Linked DNA regions of Homo sapiens. The protein of the gene in region 2 purifies or fractionates together with the protein of the main gene of each other region. This does not show direct contact. Each region holds a gene or a part of one and is shown on either strand. Other genes may lie near its edges.

Region 1 (7,938 bases), about 32 Mb from region 2:
AAAAATTAAATGAACATTTGCATGATGAAAAAAAGTTTTCATTTTCCAAATTCCAGGTCAAATACTTCTTATATGCCCTCTACGTTCTTCTGTGATTTTTATCAGTCTCTCACCTTTTGGACATTTCTATACTTCAATTTATTCCAATTCAATTCAACTCATATTTTTCAATTATAGATAGCACATTCTAATTTTTACCATGGGACCTGGATACAAATTTTGGCATTCTCTCCACCCCTGCTTCCCAAACATAGGCTTGTCCAGTTTTACTCATTGAGGCCTCTGGAGTCAGGCAGCTATGTGAGCGCAGAGAAATTGCTAAACTACTCTGTGCCCCTTTCCTCATTTATAAAGTTGTAATGGTACCAATAATACATACATTTCTTATAGGGTTGGTGTGAAAATGAAATGACTGACACACATAAAGCATTTAGAACAGTGCCTGGTATATGGCAAGTATGCAGTATATACCAGTATTATTCACTCAACAAATATTTGTGGACAGGCTCTCAGTACAGACACAGTGTCAGGTGCTGGGCAGTGGCTGTTGTTCATTTTGTTTTCCCCACACCTTGCACCCTTGCACAGTGGCTGCCACATCATGTGTCCTTAATAGTTGCTGAATGGGATCATTCAAAGTCAAATCTATGGATTAAACCAATTAGCCCTGATACTCTGATTTCCAGTCCAGTGAGGGAGACAGTGAAAGTGACAGCATCACATCACAGTATTAATATTTTTGAGAAATAGAAGTGCCTAGATTGACATCTTGGGATAGAATGGGCCACTGAACACGCAAGGTTAGGCCAAGTCTAGAACCCACGCACTTGTCCCTCACCTTCCCCCAAAGTGTGTGAAGGGGGTGCAGAGGAACTGCATGGAGGAATAAAAAAAACTCATTGACATAAGGTCATCAATTATAACAAATGTACCATCCTGGTGGGGGATATTGATAATAGGGGAGGCTATGTATGTATGGGGCAGAGGGCATATGGGAAATCTCTGTTCTTTCTGCCCAACTTTGCTGTGAACCTAAAACTGCTCTAAAAAATAAAGTCTATTAAAACAAATCTCATCGGGGGAAATGAAAAATTCACTTTACTTGGGGAAGGGACATGTGGACTTTTTGATTTTTACAATTCTGACTGGGAATTAGAAGTTGAGCTGAGTAGAAATGAGAATGGGAGTGGATGCCAGTTTTACAAGAATCAAGCTTCTTGCTTGGGCAAATCTGTCATGACTAACCTGCCCCATTTGCAAAGCATTTCTGTCTGGGTTTTATTGGGGCTTCACAAAAGGGTGTGTATTTAAAAATAAAAACACTGAAAAACTTTTGTGAAGATTCAAAGAAGAAAACATGCAATGAAGTGAGCAGCCTCCGATTGGATAGACTTGCCTTGTGGGGCTGGGTTGCTTCTCCCTGACCGGCGACTTCCAAAGCCTCAATAAGACGAGCTATTGGTCAGCAGTGCCTAAGATGCTATGGGCCAGGCTGGCCAAGAGGCTAGCAAGCACAGAGATGGAAAAGTCCAGTTCACAGTTCAGCACCATCACTCCATCACACCTTACAGTCACCAAGAGGTGCTCCAGAAATGGTGCAGTCACAAATTGGTTGCAACAACGGAGGCTTGGCTTTCCCTGTGACCACTTAAAGTGGCTCGATTTGGTTTTCTGAGCCCCGAGCTCAGTTCTTCCTCCCCTAGACCTTGGGAAGTACGAGCCATGGATCTGCAGATTCCAAAAGAAAGTGGGCTGAGCAAGCCCTGTTCGTCTGGCTGTCTGGTAAAAGACACATCCATTGTGCAGCACCCCCACATCCCTGGCATATCACGGTGCTTTTCCTGGAAAAGTCCATATTGGATTTGCGGTCTTGAAAACCCCAAGCTTAAAACACCCTGGGCCTCAGGATTTCCCCCCGTGTCCGTAATGCCACCTCTTCTACTCCAGGCTACCTCCCACAGTCTAAACAAATAAGCAGAAGGAGATTCTCACCCCACTCACACAGGCAGTCCAAAGTCCACTTCTTGCTTGGCTTTTTCTTTCTCAAATACCTTTTCTCATAGCCCTGATACTTCTAAACAGAAAGCAATAGCCTGCCTTGGGAAGAAGATAGACAGAAAGACAGGAACAGAGTCCAGATCCAAAGGTAGCTCTTGTCTGGCCTTCCTGCTGGAGCTACTCTCTGAGGGTTCCCAATTTGCATTTCCCACATACTGTAACCAGCCCTAGCCTTCAGAAATCCCAACTTCTTCCCTCTTGCTTTCTTGGACCTTCTCTTCCAAGAAAATACACACCAGTATGACCGCACTGTGGCCACTGCTGGTTCTCAGCCAAAAGCCTGGAGTTTTCACTTCTACTCTCTCTTCCCACTCTAGCCAATGCTTTCTGTTGACCCATGCTCCTGGTTTGTCAGCCTGCATGTGCACAGATTCCCTCCCAGGGCAGGGATGTAGGGCAAATCTTCTCCCAGAGCTCAGTCCATCCAGCTCAGTCTCTCTAGGCTGGGTCTTTGCCAGAAGATGCCCATGTAAAACCAACCACTCAAGCAAGACTTCTACCAGGGCCTGTCACCCTAAGACTGGTCAGAAAAGTGACTGGAGCCTTTGGCTTAGAGCCCCTCATTTCCTTGGAAACTGGGGTTGGTGGGGCTGAGTCTTGGAAACCCAAGGGCCCAGGAACTTATAATGTTCCTTCCTCTTTGAAAGAGGCAGTTGAAACTGACAGCCAGTCCCTAAGGAAGAGTGACCAAACACAATACCCAGCCCTGCACCTTCTCTCCATCCACGAAGATACGCTGATTCCTGGCAGCTAACATGGGACTCAAACCATCAGGCAGATGAACACTCACCTGTTCCGTAGCTTGCCCCAAAAGCCAGGGAGAGAAACAGCACGAAGGTCAAGGAGAGGAGCCCCTTGGGATCCATCAGCCAATGAGGAGAAGGAAGGGATCCTGGCCGGAGCCTGGCAGCTGCTCACAGATGCCAGGCAGAAGCAAGCTTCGTGTCATGCAGCAGAGGCTGTCTGATTTATGTATCAGGAACCAGCAGGTTCCTGAACCCGCTTCCTGTATCACTGGGACTTTTTCTGCTTGTGTCTTGAGGATTGCTCATCTCCCATGAGGCTTTAAATCACTTTTTTGTTCTCAAGAAGCAGGCTTCTCAAGAAGCCAGGCACTTAGCCTATGGGAGCCAGGAAAGGGGGTGTGTAGTCACCTCGGCCAAAACCCGGCTTTGGGCAGAAACATGCGCCCCAGCTTCTTTCCTTAGCTGTCTCCAGGAACCGGATGTTGCAGATTCTCTGAGCAGTTCTCTCCGGTAAGTCTTCTTGGATTGCAAAGAAAAGATGTTTCATTGGATCACTCCTCAAATTTGGCAGTTCACAGCTGAACTTAGATAACTGCATTTTGATGAGCTAATAGACCTCTTACTTCTGTTTTATTTCATAATTTCAGATGACACCTCAACATGCAGTCTGGTGCAGGTGCCACTGTCACACAGAGATGGGAAGGGCATGTGCGGGTCACTTGGAAGAAACCCTGTGACCCCGATGAGTGCAATGTGGTATAATTTAGTAGCCCATGCTCCTAGTTTGTCTTCTTGCATGTGTGTGGATTCCCTCCCAGGCAGGGATGTAGGACAAATCTATCCCAGAGCTCCATCCTTCCAGCTCAGTCTCCTTGTTGTGTGTGTGTTTTCTCCTCTAATTTTTAACGTCTGTGGGTACATAGTAGATATACATATATGTGTGTGTGTGTGTGTGTGTGTGTGTGTGTGTGTGTGTGTGTGTATGTATATATATATGTATGGGGTATGCATATATTTGTATGGGGTATATGAGATATGTTGATAGAGGCATGCAATATGTAATAATCACACAGGGTAAATGGGATATCCATCACCTCAAATATTTATCCTTTGTGTTACAAACAGTGCAATTATATTTTTATTTTTAAATGTGCAATTAAATTATTATTGACTATAGTCACACTGTTGTATTATCAAATACTAGTTCTTATTCATTCTTTCTATTTTTTTGTACCCATTAACCATCCCCACTTCTTCCCCAACCCCCACTACCCTTCAGCCTCTGGTAACCATCCTTCTACTCTCTATGCCCACAAGTTCAATTGTTTTAATTTTTACCTCTCACAAGCAAGTGAGAACGTGCAAAGTTTGTCTGTCTGTGCCTGGCTTATTTCACGTAACATAATGATCTTCAATTCCATCCATGTCATTGTGAATGACAGGATCTAATTCTTTTTTAGCTGAATAGTACTTCATTGTGTATATGTACCACATTTTCTTTATCCACTCATCGGTGATAGACGCTTAGGTCGCTTCCAACCTTGGCTATTGTGAATAGTGCTGTAATAAACATGGGAGTACAGATATCTCTTCAATATACTGATTTCTTTTCTTTTAGGTGTATACCTACCAGTGAGATTGTGGATCATATGGTAGCTCTATTTTTAGTTTTTTGAGGAACCTTCAAACCATTCTCCACAGTGGTTGTACTAACTTATATTCCCAACAACAGTGTACAAGGGTACTTTTTCTCCACATCCTTGTCAGCATTTGTTATTACCTGTCTTTTGGATAAAAGCCATTTTAATTTAATTGGGGCTGTGTTGTATTCTGGGAGTTGCCTTTATTTTGGAGTTTGTGTCTAACTTTTCATTGAGGAGAAGGAACTAGTATTGGCAGAAGGAGGATCCCGCCCTTTTTCATGAGTTAAACTATAAGAATGGGATACTGGAAGTGTAACCAATGCTCACAGGGAGACTTGAAAGAGTAGGGAAGTGTTTTTAGAGTCCATTGTAACAGGTCATAGGCACTCTCTGATGGGCCTCCCCATGGGGATCAGGTAATAAAAGCTGGTGAGATATGTGAACTTTATCCTCACTGTTTTCTTCCTTCCTTTCCCCAGCACTCAACTGTCCTCCTCACAACTATTCCCAGTGGTGTGTGCTCGAGTCAGCATGTACCAACTCATAAAATTGTTAAATTTTCAGGAATCTGGATGGGCACAGTGGCACGCCTGTAACCCCACCATTTGTGGAGGCCTAGGTGGGAGAATTTTTGAGGCCAAGAGTTTGAAAATAGTCTGGGCGATAGAGTGAGACCTCATGTCTACAAACAATTTTTTTTAATAAAAATAAAAAATAGATTTTCAGGAATCTTGTGAGGTGCTTGATGAACATGGCCATTATTAAACATATAAAATTAAATTAAATTATATAAACTTACAGTTAAGCTGGGCATGGTGGTACATGCCTGTAGTCCCAGGTACTTGAGAGGCTGAAGCATGAGGACCCCTTGAGCCCAAGAGTTTGAGGCTGTAGTATCTTTATAGCAGTGTGAAAACGGACTATCATGATCATGCCTGTTGGTGTGGTTTGCCGCTGTGTCCCCACCCAAATTTTATCTCGAATTGTAATCCCCATAATCCCCAAGTGTTGAGAAAGGGACAAGGTGGGAGGTGATTGGATCATGGGGGCAGTTTCCCCTCCATGCCGGTCTTAAGACAGTGAGTGAGTTCTCACAAGATTGGATGGTTTTATAAGGCAGTATTTTCTGCTCTTGGCTGCTCTTCTCTCTCCTACTGTGATGTGAAGAAGGTCCTTGCTTCTCCTTTGCCTTCCACCATGATTGTAAGTTTCCTGGGGCCTCCTTAGCCATGTGGAACTGCAAGTCGATTAAACCTTTTTCCTTTATAAATTACCCAGTCTTGGGTAGTATCTTTATAGCAGTGTGAGAGTGGACTAATACACCTGTAAATAGCCGCTGCACTCCAGCCTGGGCAACAGAGCAAAACCCTGCCTTTAAAAAAAACTTCACAACTAAATAAATTATATTAAATAGAGGGAATAAAATCTCAAAGCTCATTGTTTCTTAATTATTTTATGACATTACTGATATCTATGTTCTTGAGGTAATTGACATCTCTTATGTGTCTACAGTGGAAATTAAATACTGGAACATTGGTGCTTCTGGACCTCTCTTCCCCACTCTGCATTCAATGGCATAGTGTTGGGAGCTTGAAACTGGCCATGGTGAGAGTTTATGCCATGGAAATCAGCAAGCAATATAAATCAGAACTTTACTGTTTTGTTGATTGTCTAAATGTAAGAAAGTAATAGAGAAAACATAATGATGCAGAGTAAACTTAAACATGTGCCATGACTATGGCCCTTACATTAGGATTAGCATAAAAAATTGAGGAAACATTTTTCCAGTATTCAAAAACTATCATCTGATTCAGCAAAAAGTCACTAGTGTCACTGATGAGCAAGTGATGTTCCAACATATGTTTTTGTTGTTTCACATTTCTTTAACTTCAAAAAAGACATTAACCAACATTCATGTTGGAACTACATTCCTTTGTCACTTGTAAACACAGTTTGGCTGTGGATATGAATTAAGCCAATATGAAAGCAAACAGCCTGTGAGATCTGTGGCTATATGGAATTTACAATAAAGAGGATTGTACATTTTATTAAAATACAATAAATTTTATTTTATAAATTGCGTGTTACACATTCTTCGTATAAGCAAAATTTATAACAAGCTCATTTACATATATGCATATATTATTTTTCAGAGATCTGGCTCTTAACCATTTACCAACACACCACTGTTACAATAACTGAGAATCCAAATGGTGGAGTGAATGGCATACTGTCTACGTATTCATAAAATATCAGTTGAAATAACTAAATGATGTGAGAATATTGGCATCCTGTAAAAATGGGAAACCAATGATCCAGGTCTGATTTCAAGACTGGTGTTCTCTCCTCAAGCTGCACGGCTCCTGGAATGCATGCTGTCTATTCATGTCAAACCTTCCTCTCTCAAAGACAGACACTTATTCTCTTGTTTACTTTGCCCTTCCTCTCATTTCCAGAATTAGACCTTCTCTAGACTCGCTATGAGGCCTCTCCACTCTGATCTCCTGGATCCCCTCTACACAGATAACTGAGCTAATGCTAGGCACTATATGAAGAGTTTTCCTGTTTGGTGCAATCTAGAACTAAATAAAAACATACATTGAATGAGGGTCAGAAATGGTTTAGATGAAGGTTCTGAGGTTCTAGAGTGGATTCTATATAGAGTCCTCTCTGCCCCCAAATTCTTCTTCACCTGGAACGTCAGAATGTGGACTTATTTGGAATCAGGATCTTTCAGATGTAATTAAGGTAAGAATTGAGATGAGATTATACTGGGTGAATCAGAGTGATCCCCAAATCCAATGAGAGTAGTGCATCTTTCTAAGAAATAGAAAAAGGACACACAGAGACACAAAGAAGATGGCCATGTGAAAAGACAAAGCAGAGACTAGAGCTATGCAGCCACAATTCAACGAACACCAGAGACCACCAGACGCTGGAAGAGGCAGAGAAAGATTCTCCCCTTGAGCTTTCAGAAGGAGCAGGTCTTGCCAATATGTTAATTTTAGACCTTGTGCCTACAGAACGGTGGGAGAATGAATTTCTGTTGTTTTAAGTCATCAGGCTTGTGATAATTTTTTACAGCAGCCACAGGAAACTAATACAGGACCTGAGGGGCAATGTGACTAACCAGAGATTTGCAGTTAGTACATTTAGTATACTGAGCTGCTTCCTTGAGCTATTAAGAGCAGATGTCAACAGACCAACAACAGAAGATATACAGGTGATAGTGCCTTGTAGTTACAAAGCCATTTTCAAAAGCCTTCACATTCACAGCCTTATTTGATCCTCCTAACAGCCCTGCAAAGGAGCTGGTGGTGTTTGTAAGGCAGGATCTGGACCAAACTTGGGAATCCTGACACTGATCAGAGCTCTTTCCTTTTTCCTGGTGAGTATCACCATGAATACTCAAGAGAATAAGGAGGAAGGAAATCTTGCTATTGAACTCCCTGGATGCCTGGGGTTTCCACAGTGTTACTTCATTGATCTTG
Region 2 (7,433 bases):
GCTTCATCCATGTGGTGAAAAGGCTACTTTTTAATAATTCCAGCAAAGACTCTGTGTACACTAATAGTAGCCCTGTGCTCAGCTACATGACTGATTCAGTGAGGGTTCTTTGGTCCAAGCAACTTATTAGTTAGGTGACATTGAAAAAGAAGCAATATATATAGATATAATGTTATTTATATTTCTGATTTATCTACTCCTACTAGACTTTAAGTTTCCTAAATTGTTACATTCGAATGTTATTTGATGATTACATATAAGTAGTTGTTTATATGTTGGTTAGCATTCTAAGTCAAACATTTACAGATTTATTAAATTATGGAATACAAATAGAATATAATGTCATAAAAGCATCAATGATTAAATTGCAGAAAATATTTAGTGACAGAATTGTGTATGACATGTGTTATGCATAGAATAAATAGACCCTAAGAGTTGTTATGCATAGAATAAATAGACTATAAGAAGTTCTCTGGTATTCCTGTCCTTTAGGAAATGGAACTGGAGACTGGACGCTGTTCCAGTGACTAGAGTTCTGCTCCTGTGCCTGGAGCCTGGTGCCTTCCCGCCTGTATTCTAAGATTTCTGGGACTGAAAGTCCATCCACATGTTTGTGTTTCTCTCTATTGATTACTACTGGATTCACACGTACCATGTACCACTATTTTGTTGGAATATCACAGAACCCCCCACCCCCATCCTTATAACACTCTCTACATTGAAACAAAGAGATAAATTAAAAAATACTTAACCCAGCTTCAGGTACAAAAGGTCAGATTGACCACCTGAGTTTATTATCTCTTCCAACCCAAACACTAATAATATTATAGTAAAGGAACATGTACGGCTTAAACTGAAGGAAAAAGGAGATTAACCAAGGGGAAAAATAATGACAAAATATTCCAAAGTAATTTTGGAAGATGGAAGGCAGATGCTCAGAAGTAGAAATTAAAATTCTCATACCTCTAAAATGAGAAGAGAAAAGGCAGCGTTAGAATATCATCTGATAAAATAAGAAAATATAATTCACAGTCTGAGGACAAAGAATTTGCAAAATAACCATTGGTTTAAAAAGAAGTATCTACAATCCTACATTCAACAATATTTATCATTAAATAATACATCTCAATCGACAGTTTAATAGCACCAATATAGAGTGGCAGAATGAAATCCTCTCACATTTACAATTGAGAACTTCTAAGAAATATCCTTGGTAATTCCATAAAGGGAATGTTCTAATTTTTTACAAAAGTAAAGTTCTTTAGGATAAGGATTTGATTAAAACATCCTATTGATAAATTTATTTTGTTAGTTAAATCCAACCAAGGGCATCTTTAGTTGTACCCTTAAAATTAGAGTTCAAGTAGTCAATATGGATAAAAATAAAAAATAACTTTAAATATTTTATAGAACTACAAATCTACTTTGGCAAAAAGAGAATTCCCAGTGAAACAGTGATCTAAATTGGCATGACGTAGAACTGATTTAAATTGTGGATAAACTCACCAAGCTTCAAATAAACAATGATCATTTTTTTCTCATGTTGGTGGTATAATATGTGGAAACATTCCATTGACCTAAAAATAAAATAATAACAAAACCAAACAAAAACAAAAAGATTATTGTGTGCTTCCTGGAGAATGCATATTTGGCAAAGATTACTGTAAATGCTCTTAAGTTTTAAGTAAATACTTTTTCCACCTCGGAAATGCTGGATTATGGTTATTCCCATTTTTATTTATTAACTCTTTATCTAAAATTGTGTTAATATCATGGCTTATTATAAAAATTTCTTTACTGTTTTAATTTGTAATTTTCCATTACTTTTTATTTAAATAATCTATATTTATCTTAATATTGTGTATTAATTTGCTTTCCTTTTTTGTTTTTCAATACCCTCTTGGTAAAACTAGTGTGTACTTTTACAATCGAAACATAGAGTGTTTAGAACAAGTTTAGGTCTCCACGATGATTTTGCCTCCACTGTTTTCTCCTGATAATTATTTGAAAGAAATACATTTCACCGATAGAATCTAATTCTCAGAGTGATTATAAATGCATTGGTAATGGATTGAGTTGTATTAGTAGTATGCCAGAATTAGATTTGTTTCCTCCATTATTTAAATGAAATCTTAAAGTATTATGAAAATAAATAAATTTTCTTAAAGCAATTCTGTCTGTTTACATATATCTGCATTTAAATATGTTTCTTTATTTTATGATATAGCATGTTACATAAAATTTAGTAAAATTTGGAGCAATTTATATTTTAGTGAGCTTTTGTTGACCACAGCACACAAATTTCTTGTCCTTTAAAAAATTCAAGAAATTTGTGCATAGTTGTGCTTAAGCATAACATAAAAGAATAAAAAAATTCTACAAAATCAAGATTAACAATGTTTCAGATAAACCTTATAATAATCCACACCTGGCTTCAGTACAGTTAACAAAGGATGGAACTAATAATTTGGTAATGCATGATTTTTGAAACAAATAATTCAGCTATGTCTGATTTTATAATATGTTTTTATCTAAACATATAAAATGAAAAACATTTAAAATGAAAATATACACAAAAACATAAAATGAAATAATATACTTTAAAACTGTAGCATTTCCTCTGTTGCCCAACTTAGAAGATTTATTTATATAAGGAGTGACTCTAAGTTTTGTTTTAAATATAGAAAGCCAGGCAAAAGAATATGTGTTTGTTAGTTTGTCTTTTTTTCTTAGAAAAACCTCTGTTAACACTCCCAGAAGTTCTACCATTGAAATCAGCATCTGCTAGTGATTTATAGCAAGCCAATAGTCTTGTATTTATCAACTATTTTATAGAATCTCATACTTACAAATATATCCTGTCGAGCAGTCCACCATGCTAAATTTGATCTCCTCTTTGTTATGATCCGTTTGAAATCAGGTTCTGAAATTTTGTGAGACACCCAGCATTTTATTTTTCCCAGAGTAAAAGGATTTTACTGTCTCTATAATTACCTTCGATGGCACTCTGGCCTCAGTATGAATGTTCTGTTTTTACACACACGTATCTATGCAAAGAGAGGTTTTGTTGAATATGGAAAGTAGTGCTGTAGGACTCCAGTGCATTACTGATAAAGAGGTTTTATCTAACATTATCAGACCATCTGAAGTGATCAGATGATTGGAAGCAGCAGCTTCATGAAATCTTCAAAGTAATACTCAAATCTTTTTCTCCAAAATAATTTTTCTAGTTTTAGAAAATGTATAGTCTAAAGTAAAATTCCCTTTTAAAAAAGACAGAGAACTGAGTACAAACACATAGGACATCACTGCAAACACATGTTAGCAAATGGTTGAGAACTATTAAAATCAATCTGTTTGTAATAGATTACTAGGGACTTTTAACAACTGAAGGATCTAAAAAAGTATCTTTTCTAGTTATACCTCTCTAGTTCCTTCAACTGGTCCTCTACAGCAGTTCTGGACTCCGTTGTTCTACAGTTTGTTAACATGCCTTCAAAATCTGAATTGAACACAGTGCTTAAGATAAGGTCTAATGAATACAGAATATGGTAAGATTGTGAATGCCCTTGTCCTGGATTTACTCCAATTGTGTGTGTGTGTGGGGAGGGGTGGGGGAGTTGGGGGGTTTGGGGGGAGAGAGAGAGAGAGAAACAGAGAGGTAGGAGTAAAGAAATGCTAGAATAAAACAGCAGTAAAGAAGATCAAAATGTGGTTGATGGAGTGTTTCTTAAAATATTTAGGGGCCCAATGAGATAGAAGATTAACCTTACTTGTCTTTTATAATTTTGAGATTCAAACCCAAGAAAATTGAATTTCTCAAACCTGAGAGATAAGTTTGGGACTAGAAAAGGAAAGGAAACTTTGGAAAGTCAGAAGCTGCGTAGATGTAGCAATAATGTAGGAAGTGAAGGGCAGGTTAGCCTCAGCTTGGGAGGATCTGGGTTGTTTGTGGATAGCACTCATTTTCTCTGGGTGCTAGGTGTGCGATTTCCTCCCCACTCAGGACATTTTGGATGCTGGATCTCTTCAGGAAATCTTCAGTGTCATAGTCAAGACTTTTCCTCACCCCAAATAATTCATTTTTTTGGGATTTGGAATGTTTGCTCTTTCTCATGGTGTGGATGCAAGGAGCTGGCAGGAAGATTCTGGAAGTAACACCCTGTGCGAGTGTCAGTTTCAAAGCTTGTTTAATGGAGTCAAACATGAGAATCTCCCTACAGAGTAAAACTTAAGTATCGACAGGGACTGAAAAACAAATAAATCATAGAGTGAAGAGTAACAGCACGAGTAGGTGGAAATTCCTGGAGGAATTCAAGAGCAATGTGTAGATATTTGTGGCAGATTTCTAAACATGGTTTTGTTTCTCTGAAAAAGTGTAGTTCAAGTTCAGTTTATGAAATCATAGCAATATAATGCTTTGTACGGCACATAGGTGGATCAGACTAATTCAGAGCTGTCAGGTTAGGGCAGGTAACAGGATTATGCTTTCGTTGGTGCAGCTTGGGAATGCCCTTTCCATTGAAAGGCTGTCCTTCTGATGAACTGATCTGCTTACTCTAGAGCACTTTTACTATATTTCAATTTCAGCCAATGTAAGTCCAAAGTAACACAAGTTCAAATGTGCACAATTAAAAATCTTTAATATTTTTATGTTGAAAGTTCAAAATGAACTTTACAAGAGCAGAAAAATGAAGTATTAGAAATTATAAATTCAGAATTTGCCATTTATGTCTTCTACAAAAAGTGGAGAAATATAATTACTGGTTAATGTTCGTGATGACAGCTTAAGAAATAAGCCTACTATTTTCAGTGCATCCTATTTATACTATATAGTGTTTGCCATTTGTTCAGAGGGTGGCTCTTTTCAATATATTCTAGAAGCAAGATAAACTCTTGGACACTGGGGTGAATTGTCTGGTGAAATGTATCCAGTAGGCAGTGGTTTGTGCCAGTGTTTGGAAGAAGACTGGCTTCTGCTCCTGCTTTCCATGGACGCTGATCTGTCCCTCTTAGCCTTTCAGGTCTGTCCTCTCTGCCTTCATTTTCTTCCAAGCTTCTTTGCAGCGCATTCTCAGTCTGTCTTCATACACTCATTGTCCGCATCTTGGAGTGGACGACTCAGAGACTTGACCAGTCTCCCGTCCCCTCTGGTTTGCTGCCAATTAGAAACAATCTAACTTTGGTTTCTGACTTGTGTGAACCCAAAATATACCGACAACAAAAATTAGGAAGAGATTACTGAGCATTGAACACTATTGTTAGCATAAAATAAACCTCAGTAGCAATTAAAGTTAGTTACCAATTCTGTGTGCATTTATTCAGATGATTTGCTTTAAAGATGTCTTTAATTATAATCATGGTCCTGTTATGCTATAAAGTTTAGTCACTAACTCCCAATCATTCTTAGTTCCCTTTTGGTAGCTGCTTTAAATCCATTCTCTTGGCCCTTCCAGAAAGTCGGCAGTGCTCTCAGGTTTCAGATCTCCAGCATGTAATTGAAAAAACCAGTGGTCCTACTTGGTTTCTATTTTCTTCTGAGCACTTGGTGGATTGTCTTGTCCTTCCTGACTAAATTCTGGGGAATTCATTCAAATCTTATTGTTTCCACCAGTGTATTTGGGGTAACATTAACATAGGAAAGTGTTCTTTTCCCGGAAAAAAAAAAGGAGACACTCCACAGTTGTTTAATTTGCACTGAGATGAGTCTATTAGCTCTTTTGTACTTTCACATTGTTTGATCTGTGAAATTCTCTAAGGATGGGGTTAAGGGCACGTCCCTTTGAAGAGGATTTGCACTGGCTCTGTCAGGCAGCCCAGGCACTTCTCTAACACAAGACTGCTTTGTTATTTTCTTAGCTTGGGTCTCCTGGACCACACAGGTAGGGTAAATTTAAATTACAGACCTGGTTTTATGCTGAAATAGACATGTTCCTGTCATCAATTTTTGTAGGTGACTTGTTTTTTTTCTGTCTGCTGTTTCACTGAAGGTATAGCAGTTCAAGAGCCCCCGGCTCATATTAGGACAGCCTTTGATTTTGTTTCCTGGCTTGCAACAGATCTTAAAAGCCAGATCTCTAGGTTACTGAGATTAGCAAATGCTGAACTCAGCTAAACTTTAAATGCCAGTTTATCACTCTGATTTAGGATTCCCTCTGTTTTTTTCTTGATTTCTCTTAGTTTTGGCAAGCTTGCCTATGCATTTAAATGGGGTTGTTACATATTTTTTTTTAGCATTTCTGGATGTCTGGTAGAGAGAAGATTTTCAAGATATGTCTCGTCTACCATGCTTTCCTTTTATATAAGATAATGTTATATACTCATTTTAGATAAAAGTAAATGCAATAAAATGTCAAGGAAATTGGAACTTTAGCATTTCCTTGTTATCACAGATGGAAAGCATCGTTTGCTTCTTTAGATGCGGAATGCTTTGAACATACAAGGCCCACTGATGTGCAGTTGCAAAGCTGAAGCCTGTTTCCAATCACCTAATCAACTCACTATCCCTTATTGTTTAGATAAGCCTGTCCTGTTCTGCCATGTGCAAAGTATATAAATTTTCTACTATAGAAGTACAGAACAAACATACTTGTGCCACATTTCCGGTTTTTTTTTTCTTATCACAGAAATTAAAATGGTTTTTCTGTAGATCACCATTGAAATACTTTTTGTCTTATTCTTGAAACAAATCTATCCTCAGGACTTACGTGGTGTCTGGTGATTGAGGGCAGTAGATGGCTAGGTAGTGAATCAGAGGCAGGGAACATTTTAAAAGAAATAGGTACCTCAGTCAGCTGATAGGAGAGACTAAAAGAGCGCAGAGCTCAGAATTAGCCTGCATTCCTTCTCCCTGCTTTACCAAAGGAGTCTCCCACTTTTCTCATTCATGCTTCAAATGCATATGTGGACATAGCATTCAGACTGATGTAGTAGATGCTCAATAAATATTCAAAGAATAGATGGATATAGTTTTTTTTTCCCAACAGGATTTATCCAAGCTAAAAACTACCCTAATGTTCATTTTAACCAATTTTCACTTAGATAAAAATTATAGGGTGAAGTTTGGGAAGGATTATATTGTACAAGCTTCCCATATCTCATACTTTCCTAAGAAGTAGTTCTGCCTCTCTGACTGTAACCTTTTTGTAACCTATAATTTGTGTAGTGGTTAATGAGATATATCTGGAGATGCTTTGTAAGTATAATTTACACAAATATATATTTTTATGAGGCATGCAAATTTAAACAATGGTGTCCTTGTGACTTAGTCAAACAAGGAACTAGAATAAAATACAAGGCAAATGTTTTTCTTTAGGATTATGACACTATATCTTAAAACCTCTGAAAGATATGATAATGCAAATAAGATTAGATAAAACAAGTTTAGTTTTGTAGAAAAGGCAAAGAATTTTAAAAATTGCAATCCCAGAAGC
Region 3 (7,023 bases), about 34 Mb from region 2:
TAGTGGCTCATCAGCATTTTCTCATTTTTTCCATAAGAAATGTACGTTACTTATATAAATGATTTATCAAGATGAATGAGTGCCGGGTGCAGTGGCTCACATCTGTAATCCCAGCACATTGGGAGGCCAAAGTGGGAGGATCACCTGAGGTCAGGAGTTCAAGACCAGCCTGGCCAACATGATGAAAACCCATCTCTATTAAAAATACAAAAATTAGCCAGGTGTGGTGATGCATGCCTGCAGTCCCAGCTACTCAGGAGGCTGAGGCACAAGAATCACTTGACCCAGGAGGCAGAGGTTGCAGTGAGCCAAGATATTGTGCCACTGCACTCCAGCCTGGGCGACAAACCGAGACTCAGTCTCAAAAAAAAAAAAAAAAAAGGCAGGGGGGAGAGAAATGAGTTTAATATTGGGAGAAAAAGAATAATGGAATAATTTTTAAGAATCACAAAAGACAAACAAACTGGGGTGTTCTGGAAGACAAATTGTCTTCTCAAGCTAGAAGGATTTAATTTGGTAAATCACCAATCCAAAGCACAATATAGTAGCTTTAAAGACTAAAAGTACTTTGAGAATATTTAGCTTGGTTCCAAATTTATTGACCTACCAGAATCTTAATCAAGAGGTAAAATTTTAAAGAAACTATGTTAAAAAGGTTAGTCTAATGTACCTGCCAAAAGAAATAGTGAGACCAAGGAACATGTCAAACTTTTTCTTAGAATGAGAAAAGTACTATTATTCTTTTATTTTTATTTCAAGACATTATTACTTAGAAAGCAAGATTCTTTTTTTTTTTTTTTGGAATTTGAGACAGAGTCTTACTCTGTCACCCAGACTCCCAGACTGGAGTGTGGTGGCGCGATCTTGGCTTACGGCAATCTCTGCCTCCCAGGTTCAAACAATTCTCCTGCCTCAGCCTCTCAAGTAGCTGGGATTATAGGCACCTGCCACCACTCCCGGATAATTTTGTATTTTTAGTAGAGATGGGGTTTCACCTTGTTAGCCAGGCTAATCACGAACTCCTGAGCTCAAGTGGTCCGCCTGCCTCAGCCTCCCAAAGTGCCGGGATTACAGGCGTGAGCCACCGTGCCCAGTGAAAGCAAGACTCTTAAAAATAAGCTATTACGGGCCAGGTGTGGTGGCTCATGCCTGTAATCTCAGCACTTTGCAAAGCTGAGGCAGCAGGATCCCTTGAGCCCAGGAGTTCGAGACCAGCCTGGGCAACAAAGTGAGGCCTCCTCTCTACAAAAAATAAAGAAATTAGCTGGGCATGGTAGCATGTGCCTGTGGTCCCAGCTACATGGGAAGCTGAGGCAAGAGGATCACTTGAGCCCAGGAGGTCGAGGCTACAGTGAACTGTAATCACATCACCACACTCTAGCCTGTGTGACAAAGCGAGACCCTGTCTCAAAAAATAAATAAACAAAAAATCTGCTGGGCACAGTGGCTCACGCCTGTAATCCCAGCACTTTGGGAGGCCAAGGTGGGCAGATCACTTGAGGCCAGGAGTTTGAGGCCAGCCTGGCCAACATGGTGAAATCCCGTCTCTACTGAAATTACAAAAATTAGCCAGGCATGGTGGCACATGCCTGTAATCCCAGCTACTCAGGGGGCTGAGGCAGGAGAATCGCTTGAGCCTGGGACGCAGAGGTTGCAGTGAGCCAAGATTGCACCGTTGTACTCCAGCCTGGGCAACAGAGAGAGACTGTCTCAAAAACAAACAAACAAACAATTATGCTAACATATAGGTCAGCACAGTCGTTTAACAAATGCTTTTAATCTAAATATTTATGGAATGTTTAATTAGAAAGGTTTTTAATCAATAATTTTAGAAATTTTTAAAAATAATTTCTAACAACTGAGGATCAATTCTCCTATAAAAGCATATTAATTTAAGGTTATCAGTGAAAACCAATACTGAAAAGCTACAATGAATCATAACTTAGAAGGAAAATGGAAACACTATATCCAGATTAATTTAACAAATTAGACTTTTAGCTATGGTATACCTAAAAATGCTATACTTCTTACCTTTTAAACTGACAAGGGCTTTTGCTGAAGAGCCTGCAATTAAAAATAAAACAAATCAATAATTATTTCATAACCAAAGTGAGAGAAAAAGACCTTGGTTTGGGGGTAAAAGTGATCCATTTAGTTTTAGTAATGTTGAGTTTGAAGAGATGGTGGAATGTGCAATTCGAAATATCTGGCAGACAATTCAAACTATAAACCAGAACTCAGATAAAGAAAGAACTGGAGAGAGACATATGAGAGTCTTGCTGAAGTTGTGAGAACTGGAGACCATTCCAGGAGAAGAAAGTGAAGAAACAGAAGAAAGAGGAAGAGTGGGGACAGAGGTAATTTTGGATCCTCATCCAGGCGTGCTGTGGTGCTGGAAGAAAAGAGAAAGGGAACCGACATCCATTGAGGCAAAGACTGATGTAGTAATGGAGTGGAAAAAAACAGGCAATGGAAATGATTCAGGGACTGTCAGAGCAAGCAATAAGTCCCTTGAAAGTCTAGAATGCAGGTATATGTGATACTTCAAGATCTAAGCTGGAAAAGGGAATACAGAATGGCCAAGAGGGGCTAGAATAAAGTTGGAGGGGTCCACTGGATAAAACAAACTCCAGTGTACATTAGAGGCCAGGTATGATGGCTGACACCTGTAATCCCAGTGCTTTGGAAGGCCAAGGTGGGAAGGCTAGCTTGAGGCCAGGAGTCTGAGACCAGCCTGGGCAACATAAGGAGATCCTGTCTCTAAAAAAATGTTTTTAATTCACTGGGTATGGGGGCACGTGCCTAAAGTGTCAGCTACTCAGGGGGCTGATGTGAGAGGCCTGCTGGAGCCTGGGAGGTTGAGGCGGCAGTGAGCTGTGACCGTGCCACTGCACTTCAGCCTGACAGACAGAGTACGACTCTGCCTCAAAAAAATAAAAAAGACATTAGAATAACAAGGAAGCTCCTCATACATGCAAAATCTAGACTGAATCTATATTATTAATAAACAACAGGGGATTCTGTTGCAGGTAACCCACTTTGAGAAACATCAGGCTACAGGTTCTGGTGTGAATGAATTATAGGATCTATGGGTAGGGAAAGTAGAAAAATCAATAGAGAGGCCGGGTGCGGTGGCTCACGCCTGTAATCCCAGCACTTTGGGAGGCCGAGGTGGGCGGATCACAAGGTCAGGAGATCAAGACCATCTTGGCTAACACGGTGAAAACCCGTCTCTACTAAAAACACAAAAAATTAACTGGGTGTGGTGGCGAGCACCTGTAGTCCCAGCTACTCGGGAGGCTGAGGTGGGAGAATGGCGTGAGCCCACAAGGCAGAGCTTGCAGTGAGCAAAGATTGCGCCACTGCACTCCATCCAGCCTGGGTGACAGAGTGAGACTCCATGTCCAAAAAAAAAAAAAAAACAAACCAATAGAGAAAGAAGCTTTTTGAGAGTGAGAAAGCACTAAATTTAAAAATCTCAGAATTGGATGTATACATTGCAAAGTCCAAGTCATCTGAAAAATAATAATTAAGGATGATCTCAGGGGATTAAATAAAAAAGAACATGAACTAGGAACAAAAATCAGAGAGGACGGATTAATCCTCCTTGCTATTTAACAAAAGCAGCTATGATTTACATCTCATATAAATGGATAACAGACTTAAAATGAGAAGCAACAGATAAAGTATGGCAGTTATGAAACACTTCATCTCAGATCCTTAAACACTATGCATCTCTGATCACTAAACCTCAACTGACTTTTTCCTCCACAGGTCTGTGTAAGAGACTTGTGAAACAGACACCTATTAGCATTAAAGACACTTACTTTCACTCTACTCTCTTGCCCAGATGTGAAGAATAGTTAACAGGACACCATAAAAGCTTCTGCATGGCAAATGAAGCTTAATGACAAAAGGCAGTAAAGTCATGGGGGTGAATGACATAAAATCTTGCTAAAAAGTCTCAAACAATGAAACACAACTGTAAAGCAGCAATAGTAGACAATACACACATCTGTGTACCAAAAGATATGCAGTGCATTTGAGAAAAAGTAGTAACCATTCACTCACTGAATATGTAGAGTACTGATGGCATGCCAGTCCCTACCTGCTCTAGGCAATGGGAATACAACAGCAAGCAAAATAGTCAAAGTCCCTGCTCTCATGGAATGTACATTCTAGTGATGGGAGGCAAACAAAAACAGCTATCGAGTAATGATAAGCACTCTGGAAAAAATAAAGCAGAAGAAGAAGAATACGCAGGGTGGGGATGGAGGGAAGGAAAACTATTTGTATATAAGGTGTTCATGATGAGCTTCTATGAAAGGTGATGCTTAAGCAGAGATCTGAAGGAAGAGGTATATAGGCCATAAGAATATCCACTCCTGCTCCACGAAGGCAGGAACCATATCTTGGGGATTCTGACCAATCACCTTTAACCTTTTTTTTCTTTTTCGTTTTCTTTTTTCTTTTTCTTTTTTTGAAATGGAGTCTCACTCTGTCACCCAGGTTGGAGTGCGGTGGCGCAATCTCAGCTCACTGCAACCTCCACCTCCCGGGTTCAAGAAATTCTCCCCACCTCAGCCTTCCAGGTAGCTAGGATTACAGGTGCATGCCACCATACGCAGCTAATTTTTGTATTTTTAGTAGAGACAGGGTTTCGCCATGTTGGCCAGGCTGGTCTCGAACTCCTGACCTCAGGTGACCACCCGGCTCGGCCTCCCAAAGTGCTGGGATTATAGGCGTGAGCCACCGCAACCGGTCCTTCTTTCCTTTTTCTAGATGCAGGATAGCATAGTGGTTAAGAAAACAGGTTCTAGATTGAGACTAGCTATGTTTGAATCTTGGTCCTGACACTTTCTTGCATGCTACCTTAAGCAAGTTACTTTGCCTCTCTGTGCTATTGTTTCTTCATGTGTAAAATGAGGATTAAATGAGTTAATACATGTAAAAGTGCATAGAACAATGCATATATTACACAGTTAATTTTGATATAATGCTGTTAGTATTATTTTGAGCAATCAAAAAATAATAGGTTAAGAACATGGATTTTTCAGTCAGGCGAATCTGATTAAATTAGAATCTTGCTCTAACGAGGTGTTCATTAATCCAAAGATTCTACCCTTCTTAGTTCATAAGCATGATGATTGGGTTTTCATACTCATGTGTGAGATGTGTCTCTCTCAAACTTTGTGAAAAGTCAGCACATGACCCATCTGATGTGGAAAAAAAAATTTTATTGAATGCCTACCATAAGCACTGTTAGGGGCGAGGGTTACCCCAAAGAACAAGACAAACAAAGCCTCTCCTCACAGGAAGCTTAAACTCTAGTGGAAAGAGACATATATATATAAAACACGTACATAATAATTATAGCTCATGATAAAGGAAATAAACAGGGTGATATTGGTGGGGACGGGGGAATTACTCTAAGTACTAGCTACCTTACTTTTGAGTACAGACGGTTTCTCTGAGGAGGTAACATCTAAAAAACTAGCTGTGAGAGAGCAGGAAATCAAAGCAATGAGTCTGGGCAGAAGAAACAGGTTAAGTCCTAAGAAGGGAGGAGGGGTGACTGTGCTTGCATAGGGAAGAATGGTATGAAAGGGCAGAGGTAAGCCAGGTGTTATGCATGGAACTGGGAATGCAATTAAGACAGTACCTGCTCTGATGGGGCTACTAACCAATCACATAAACAAATACAAAACTGCAACTGTAATAGCTGCCACTAGGAAGTTACATAGTAATACAAAAAGATTTAAAGAATATGGGCCTGGCCTGGCACAGTGGCTCACACCTGTAATCCCAGCACTTTGGGGGGCTAAATGACTTGAGGGCAGGAGTTCGAGACCAGCCAGGTTCTACTAAAAATACAAAAGTTAGCCGGGCTTGGTGGCACACATCTGTAATCACAGCTACTCAGGAGGCTAAGGCAGGAGAATTGCTTGAACTCTAGAGGCGGAGGTTGCAGTGAGCAAAGACTGCACCGCTGCACTCCAGCCTGGGTGACAGAGCAAGACTCCATCTTTAAAAAAAAATAAAGATAGGCCCTGCATGGTGGCTGAAGCCTGTAATCTCAGCACTTTGGAAGGCTAAGGCAGGAGCATCGCTTGAGGCCAGGAGTTTGAGACCAGCCTGAGCAACATAGGGAGACCTCGTCTCTACAAAAAAAAGAAAAAAAAAAAAAAAAAAAAAAAAAACCTTAGTTGGGCATGGTGGTACATGCCTGCGGTCCCAGCTACTGGGGAGACTGATGCCGGAGGATCTCCTTAGCCCAGAAGATCAAGGCTGCAGTGAGCCACGATCATGCCTCTGCACTCCAGTCTACACAACAGAGGGAGACCCTGTCTCTTTAAAAAACAAAAAACAGATTTAAAGAAGACATAATTTAGTCAGGGAGGATGGGAAATGGCTCTCTGAAGAAGCATAAAATGGGATCTAAAAGACAATTAGAAGTTAACTGAAAGTAAGGGGGGTGTGGGGGGGTAGCATTCCAGGTTGAGAGAACAGCATGTGCAAAGACCCTGGAGAAAAGGGGAGACTGGCGAGTATCGGGAATGAAAAAGGTCCAATTTACCCCAAGGGATAGAATGAGGGGACAAGTGGTAAAACATAAAGCTGAGAGGTAGGGAGCAGCCAGACCACAAAGGGTCTTATAGCTACTAAAGGGTTTGTAACAGGAGGATGACATACATTCGTTTTGAAAGGATCCCTCTCGCTGTGTGTTTGTGGGAAGGGGGCTGAATTAATGAGAGGCTGAGGTAATTGGTAAAGAGAAGAAATGGTAACAGTTTGGGCTATGCTGATGGTAAGAAATGGGTAGAATTGATAGATATTTAGAAGGTAAAATTTACAGACTTAGTAAAGGCTTAAATATGGGAAGTGAAAGGGAGGAAAGTGGCTGGGGGCGCGGTGGCTCACCCCTGTAATCCCAGCACTTTGGGAGGTTGAGGCGGGTGCATCACCTGAGGTCAGGAGTTTGAGACCAGCCTAGCCAACATGGTGAAACCCCGCCTCTACTAA

Evidence for each region.
Region 1: the proteins of RGS13 (region 2) and SLAMF1 purify together in Homo sapiens (affinity purification with mass spectrometry; 2 studies listed by BioGRID and IntAct, with this or other methods). This does not show direct contact.
Region 3: the proteins of RGS13 (region 2) and LIN9 purify together in Homo sapiens (affinity purification with mass spectrometry; 2 studies listed by BioGRID and IntAct, with this or other methods). This does not show direct contact.

What each region holds. Positions count from the first base shown.
Region 1 is NC_000001.11:160,644,022-160,651,959, forward strand, and holds the start of SLAMF1 (signaling lymphocytic activation molecule isoform b precursor), read right to left. Parts: upstream 3,024-7,938; 5' UTR 2,925-3,023; coding exon 2,849-2,924; intron 1-2,848.
Region 2 is NC_000001.11:192,631,734-192,639,166, reverse strand, and holds the start of RGS13 (regulator of G-protein signaling 13), read right to left. Parts: upstream 3,021-7,433; 5' UTR 2,850-3,020; intron 1,578-2,849; 5' UTR 1,507-1,577; intron 1,004-1,506; 5' UTR 964-1,003; intron 1-963. UniProt on the Homo sapiens protein: Inhibits signal transduction by increasing the GTPase activity of G protein alpha subunits thereby driving them into their inactive GDP-bound form. Binds to both G(i)-alpha and G(q)-alpha.
Region 3 is NC_000001.11:226,299,142-226,306,164, forward strand, and holds part of LIN9 (protein lin-9 homolog), read right to left. Parts: intron 5,223-7,023; exon of another isoform or gene 5,121-5,222; intron 2,065-5,120; coding exon 2,032-2,064; intron 1-2,031. UniProt on the Homo sapiens protein: Acts as a tumor suppressor. Inhibits DNA synthesis. Its ability to inhibit oncogenic transformation is mediated through its association with RB1. Plays a role in the expression of genes required for the G1/S transition.